2 linked regions of the Homo sapiens genome follow. The protein of the gene in region 2 purifies or fractionates together with the protein of the main gene of each other region. This does not show direct contact. Each region holds a gene or a part of one and is shown on either strand. Other genes may lie near its edges.

Region 1 (3,500 bases), on a different chromosome or scaffold from region 2:
CTTGCTGTTAAAATGAAAAGTATATTAAAAATTTTAAAAACCAAAAGAAAATAAAAATTTAAAAAATTCAACTTCTAAATTATTCTGTTTAATCCTATAATTGTATTAGCCATTCTTAGCAGCTGCTACTGTTAGATCGAAGGTTTTCCCTGTCATTTCAGGCTTAGGGTAAAAAAAAAAATTAAGTGCTAGTCGATCTGAATATTTTGGTGTTGGGATTGGGCCATAATCCCAAGTGTTAAAATCCTGAAATCCTAAAAACCACAATTCTAAAAGATCAAAATCTTAAAAATATAATCCTGGAAAAAGTAATTTTAAAAAATTATTTGAAAGATATTACTTTACATTTTTAAAAGGGAATGTATTTGAGAAACATGTAAAAACATGACAGCACTTCATAGGCCACTTTACACAATAAAATAGGCAATAATAACATGCTTTTGCAAGCATAAACAGTTATAAAAATGACAGTTACATGTGTAAAACAGGAGCAGACAAACTGTATTCATAAATCAGAAAGCAAAATGTGTAAGTGCATGTCACTATGGTTAGTAGTTGTGTGCCACTCTGCTTTATAACTGCGCTCATCTGAAATAACCATGACAGACAACCTAAGTCTTGAGGAAATTGATAAAAAACGGCAATGGGTCACTACAACATATGCAGTCACCCAAAGAACTGAGATCACAAGAAATTTTATGTTTCACAGATGCAGATGTACAGAAAGGACCTTTCTTGTGTACATGCAGTGTTTACACACACAGTTAATGCTGTGTGTAATGTACTTTTGCAGAGTCAAATTTCTGATGTTCAAGGCCGCAGAAGAAAAGTCTGTCCACCTTTCAGAGAGAGACCAATTTGCCTTATGTATTTGTTCTCTCAGAGCCCCTGGTCAATTGGATGGTGCCCGCCAACACTGAGGGCAGGTCTTCCCCACATAGTCTACTTGGACTGACTAATCTTTCCTGGAAACACCCTTACAGACACATGCAAAATAATGCTTTACTGTGTGTTGTTACTTAATTATTTAAAAGAAGTATAGCACTCTAGTACTTTTTTTTTTTTTTTTGAGACAGAGTCTTGGCTCTGTCACCCAGGCTGGAGTGCAGTGGCATGGTCTTGACTCACTACAACTCTACCTCTCAGGTTCAAGCAGTTCTCCTGCCTCAGCCTCCCGCGTAGCTGGGACTACAGGTGCGCCACCACACCCAGCTAATTTTTGTATTTTTAGTAGAGACAGGGTTTCACCACGTTGACCAGGCTGGTCACGAACTCCTGACCTCAAGTGATCTGCCGGCCTCGGCCTCCCAAAGTGCTAGGATTACAGGCATGAACCACCACATGCAGCCTAGCCTCATAACAATCTTATATAAATAAGATCTTTACAAAAGAAAACAAGTTAGAAAGCTAACTTTAATAATTATCTTACATGATCATTTATAGAGTCTTGTCAGGGCTGGAATTAGAACCGTGATCTGTTGACCTCTAATTTAGTTTTCTTTTCATTCTATGGTCCTGGGAGAAAATTTGTCTTTATAAGTATTTGACATATGAGTTGGTGTGATAGATTACATTTCCTGTTCCTAATGCACTTTTTCTCATTAAATGAAGGGAACTCAAAAAATAAAAGCTTTAATAAGACTGAATTTCATTCTAGGAGAATGGCCACCAGTCCTTACTGAGCAGCGATGATCAACTTTTTATTTATGAGACAGCTGGAGTGCTGATTGTTAATAGTGAATATCCGGCAGAAAGGAAACAAGCCTTAATGAGGAATCTGTTGACTCCACTAATGGAGAAGTTTAAAATTCTGTTAGAAAAGTTGATGCTGGCACAAGATGAAGAAAGGCAAGCCTCTCTAGCAGACTGTCTTAACCATGCTGTTGGATTTGCAAGGTAAGTGTGATCACAGTTAAAATTATAAAGTGCATGTATCTACACAGACAGAACCACTTGTTTGGTGGGCACACACATTTGTGTTTCCACAGTTGGATAATCCAGAGAATTGTCTAAATCTTTGTCCTCCAAATCCAGTCAGTTAGATTTGGTTGAAGAAGGGGATAGGTTACATACCATTTACATTTTTGCCTTGACAACTGTAAATCTTTAACTCCTCTGACTTCTCTGATATAAATGGGTTGTGTGTTTAAGAGGATCAGCTGAAGTGTTAATATACCAAATATATATTGGGACGGGACATCTTTGGTTAGTCTTGGTTACCTTAAAGAGAAGAGCGTGAGGTTTCTCTTCAGTTGTATTGTGTCCTGAAGATCACCCAAGCAGCTGTTTTTTCCGCCTCTAGCCATACTTTTTGTTGACAAACAACAGCATGAAAGTTGTAAAGATTGCTAATTTAGAAGTTAAATTGTTCTATAATATATTTAAGAACAAGAGCTAGATATTAGAGAGGTTGTATAAAGAATTCTGAAGATGGTTTTCTAAATTTAAATGGGTGGTTTGCAGGTTACCTAGTACAGGCCTAGTCATAATAAGTGGATTTATTTTCTCTTTTCTGTCCACTTTGTCAGTAGGATTTTTCTCTTTTTTTTCTTTTTTCTTTTTTTTGTGGGGGAGACACAGTCTTGCTTTGTCACTCAGGCTGGAGTGCAGTGTTGTGATCTCAGCTCAGTGCAACCTCCGCCTCCCAGGCTCAAGCAATTCTTGTGCCTCAGCCTCCAAGTAGCTGGGATTGCAGGCATGTGCTACCACACCCAGCTAATTTTTCTATTTTTAGTAAAGACCGGTTTTGACCATGTTGTCCAGACTGGTCTTGAACTCCTGGCCTCAAGTGATTTGCCTGCCTTAGCCTCCCAAAGTGCTGGAATTAGAAGCATGAGCCACAATACCCAGCCCAGTCAATAGGATTTTAATAAAACATTTAGGTAGACTCACATTAGAAGGATTATATTAACTACATGTCATTCATTTAAGTTAATTTGAGCTCTTTTGTTCTGGAAAGATCATTGGAAGCAGTAGTTTACAAATAGCCATATTAGCTAAAGATGGAAGTAATTGTGATGTGGAAAATAAAGGTCTGGTTATTTAGTTTTGTTAATTTTGTAATTTGTTGTGCATTGCTTTTGAATACTCCATAACACTTTTAAAGAATAAAGTTGCATCTGATTGCCTGATTTTTGCTTATATAGTCGAACCAGTAAAGCTTTCAGCAACAAACAGACTGTGAAACAATGTGGCTGTTCCGAAGTTTATCTGGACTGTTTACAGACATTCTTGCCAGCCCTCAGTTGTCCCTTACAAAAGGATATTCTCAGAAGTGGAGTCCGTACTTTCCTTCATCGAATGATTATTTGCCTGGAGGAAGAAGTTCTTCCGTTCATTCCATCTGCTTCAGAACATATGCTCAAAGATTGTGAAGCAAAAGATCTCCAGGAGTTCATTCCTCTTATCAACCAGATTACGGCCAAATTCAAGGTACCGCAAACTTTCAGAGCTCTGAAAATCTCTTGAAGATCAGATGTATTTATCTTCAGACATGTTTC
Region 2 (3,500 bases):
TAAAAATACAGAAATTAGCTGTGCGCGATGTCAGGCGCCTGTAGTCCCAGCTACTAGGGAGTCTGAGGCAAGAGAATCGCTTGAACCCGGGAGTGGAGCTTGCAGTGAGCCAAGATCGCGCCACTGCACTCCAGCCTGGGCAACAGAGTGAGACTCTGTCTCAAACAAACAAAAATATATATCTATATCTATATCTAGATAGATATAGATATAGATCTATATAGATTATATATATAATAAACATTGAAGTTTGACATACAAAAATGTGTACACACTTCTTTAGATGTGCTGTTGATGAATTTTCATATGACGAGCAAACCCGTGTGACTAGCTCCCAAATTAAGGAGCGTACTCTGTGGCCGTGGCGGCCTACCCGGGGCACACTGCTGACCCCTAGTGTGCCACGGTGGTGCTGCCTGGTTTGAACTGAGGTGGGTGGGTCCTGCTGTGCAGGTGTCTAGTGCGAGTGTCTGGCTTGCGTTCTGGTGTCCGCTGCACCGCCATGCGTGTCTGTGTGTAGTTTACCCCTGTGAGGCATTTACGGTGTCTCCTATTGGGAGCTCTTGTGATGCCCTGAGGAGTTGGACAGGCGTTGGCAGGGGGTGGTTTCTGCTGGGTGCGTGCCTGTGTGGAGTGGCCGGGCCCCAGGGTGCGTGTGCTCCGCTCTGGAGCTGCCATGTGGGTGCAGTGGTGCACATGCCGGCCCGCATCCCCGGTAGCATTGGGTATCGTGTCTTTTCCGCTGGAGCCATTCTGATGAGTGCTTGGTGATATCTCATGAGTTTTTGGTATTAATAGACTTACTTTTTTTTTTTTTTTTTGAGATGGAGTCTTACTCTGTCACCCAGGCTGGGGTGCAATGGTTCAATCTCAGCTCACTGCAACCTCCACCTCCCAGATTCAAGCAAGTCTCCTGCCTCAGCCTCCTAAGTAACTGGGATTACAGGCGCCCACCACCAAGCCTGGCTAATTTTTTGTGTGTGTTTTCAGTAGAGGTGGGGGTCTCACCATGTTGGCCAGGCTGGTCTCGAACTCCTGACCTCAAATGATCCACCTGCCTCGGCCTCCCAAAGTGCTGGGATGACAGTTGTGAGCCAGTGTGCCCAGCCGGACTTATGTGTTTGAGCAGTTTTAAGTCTACAGAACAACAGACTGGAAAGTGCAGCGCCCCCGCCCCCCTCACCGTCCAGCTAGGTTCACGTGACTGACGTCTCGCACTAGTGTGGCGGTCCTTGTGTTTTAAGTGTCACCTCGATGGAGGTAGTGGACATGCAGGAAGATTCACTCTCTTTTTATTTTCTCGAGGCGGAGTCTTGCTCGGTCGCCAGGCTGGAGTGCAGTGGCGCAATCTCGGCTCAACTGCAACCTCTGACTCCCTGGTTCAAGTGATTCTCCTGCCTCAGCCTCCCAAGTAGCTGGGATTACAGGCACACACCACCATGCTCAGCTAATTTTTGTATTTTTAGTAGAGATGGGATTTCACCATGTTGGCCAGGAGGGTCTCGATCTCCTGACCTCGTGATCTGCCCACCTCGGCCTCCCAAAGTGCTGGGATTACAGGTGTGAGCCACCGTGCCCGGCTGATTGACTCTTTTTAGGGTGCAGGTCATGGGCTTGCTGTGTAACCACCACAGTCAAACAGAACACACAGCTTCATCCCCCAGAGGGTCCCCATGTGCCCCTTTGTCATCAGCCAAATCTCCACACCCCCAGCCCCTGGCAACACTGAGCTGTTCCCTGGCCTAAAAGTTTGCCTTTTCTGAGTTTCCTGTAAACAGAATGACACTGTTTGTAGCATTCAGAGTCCAGCTTCCTCTGCTCAGCATGGTGCGTTTGAGTCCCATCCGTGTCATGGTGGGTGTCAGTAGTCATCCCTTTTTCCTGCTGACTAATATTCCCTTATTCGAATGGACCACAGTTTGTATCCATTCGCTTGTTGAAGGACATTTGGGTTGTTTTTCCATTTTTGGGTTGTGGATAAACCTGCTGTAAACATTGGCATACAGGTTTTTCATGAACACGTTTTCATTCCTCTTGGTAAGTGAATACCTAGGGGTGCAGTTAATCCCCAGGTCACACAGTAAGTGTCTATTTAACTTATGAGAACGGGGAAAATGGCATTTTTAATCTCTTCCAGAATGTGTTCATTACTTGTAGCTGTGGACTTAAGTGGCTAAAGATGGTGCATGTAGGGTGTGTGCAGAGAACAAGGGGGTATTAGTTGGCAGCACCCCGCTGTCCATGAAGACTTGAGGTGGGGACTGGGAAGGAGATGGCACCCCTGTGCTCTGCGCATACAGCTTCATCCCTGGACAAGGCGCGCGGCCACCACAGCAAGGAAATGGCCCTTTCAGTGCTAGGAAGTGTCGCGTTCGGCAGGAGACTGGGATGGAGCGGGGCCTGGGGGTGAAGAGGGTCCTCATGAGCCGCGTGTGTGGGGTGAGGGCCTCTGGGGAGCACCTGCTGCTGTGAACATGTGTTCCTGTCTCCACCCTGCAGTGCGGCATCGTCCTGGGGGCGCTGCTCTTGGTCTTCTGCTCATGGATGACGCACCAGTCGTGCATGTTCTTGGTGAAGTCGGCCAGCCTGAGCAAGCGGAGGACCTACGCCGGCCTGGGTGAGGCGCCCTCTCCACAAGGTGGCTCTGGACCTGGGGCGGGGGCCTTATTCCATTTATTTATTTATTTATTTACTCTACTTGATTCTTCAAGAATTCCTTGGATAGCAGGGTTTTTTTTATTTTAAAATGTAATGCTGCAAAAAAATGAGCCGGGTGTGGTTGCACGTGCCTGTCGTCCCAGCTACTATTTGGGAGGCTGAGGTGGGAGGATCACCTGAGCCTAGGAGTCTGAGGTGGCAGTGAGCTGTGATCACGCCATTGTATTCCAGCCTGGGTGACAGAGCGAGACCCTGTCTCAAAAGAATTAAAAATCAAATTAAAAAAAAATGCAGTTAAAAAAAAAACCTGCCGGGCGTGGTGGCTCGTGCCTGTAATCCCAGCACTTTGGCAGGCCGAGGCAGGCGGATTATTTGAGGTCAGGAGTTCGAGACGAGCCTGGACAACATGGTGAAACCCCATCTCTACCAGAAATACAAAAAATTAGCCAGACATGGTGGCAGGCATCTGTAATCCTAGCTACTCAGGAGGCTGAGGCCAGAGAATCTCTTGAACCCGATAGGTGGAGGCTGCAGTGAGCTGAGATCACGCCACTGCACTCGAGCCTTGGTGCCAGAGTGAGACTCTGTCTGGAAAAAAAAAGAAAAACCTGTTATAATCACATGCTTCAAAATTGGAGTGACACAGAAGGGTATGAGGCGCCAGGTCTCCCTGTCACCATGCCCTCCTGCCCGCTCCCATGCAGGTCCACACAAGCTTCCTCTTCTAAACTCAGACCAAGACAGCCGTCCTCACCGTGCTGGTGCAGACCTGCTCTCTCTGTGTCTCTCCTGGACACCAGATGCCTTCCTGCGGAGCTGCCTGCAGAGAGCCTTGCTGTTCT

Evidence for each region. The genes of interacting proteins can lie anywhere in the genome.
Region 1: the proteins of SLC38A10 (region 2) and XPOT purify together in Homo sapiens (affinity purification with mass spectrometry; one large-scale study listed by BioGRID and IntAct). This does not show direct contact.

The regions. Positions count from the first base shown.
Region 1 is NC_000012.12:64,428,392-64,431,891, forward strand, and holds part of XPOT (exportin-T), read left to right. Parts: intron 1-1,657; coding exon 1,658-1,896; intron 1,897-3,146; coding exon 3,147-3,432; intron 3,433-3,500. UniProt on the Homo sapiens protein: Mediates the nuclear export of aminoacylated tRNAs. In the nucleus binds to tRNA and to the GTPase Ran in its active GTP-bound form. Docking of this trimeric complex to the nuclear pore complex (NPC) is mediated through binding to nucleoporins.
Region 2 is NC_000017.11:81,288,808-81,292,307, reverse strand, and holds part of SLC38A10 (solute carrier family 38 member 10), read left to right. Parts: intron 1-2,499; coding exon 2,500-2,617; coding exon of another isoform or gene 2,618-2,638; intron 2,639-3,500. UniProt on the Homo sapiens protein: Facilitates bidirectional transport of amino acids. May act as a glutamate sensor that regulates glutamate-glutamine cycle and mTOR signaling in the brain. The transport mechanism remains to be elucidated.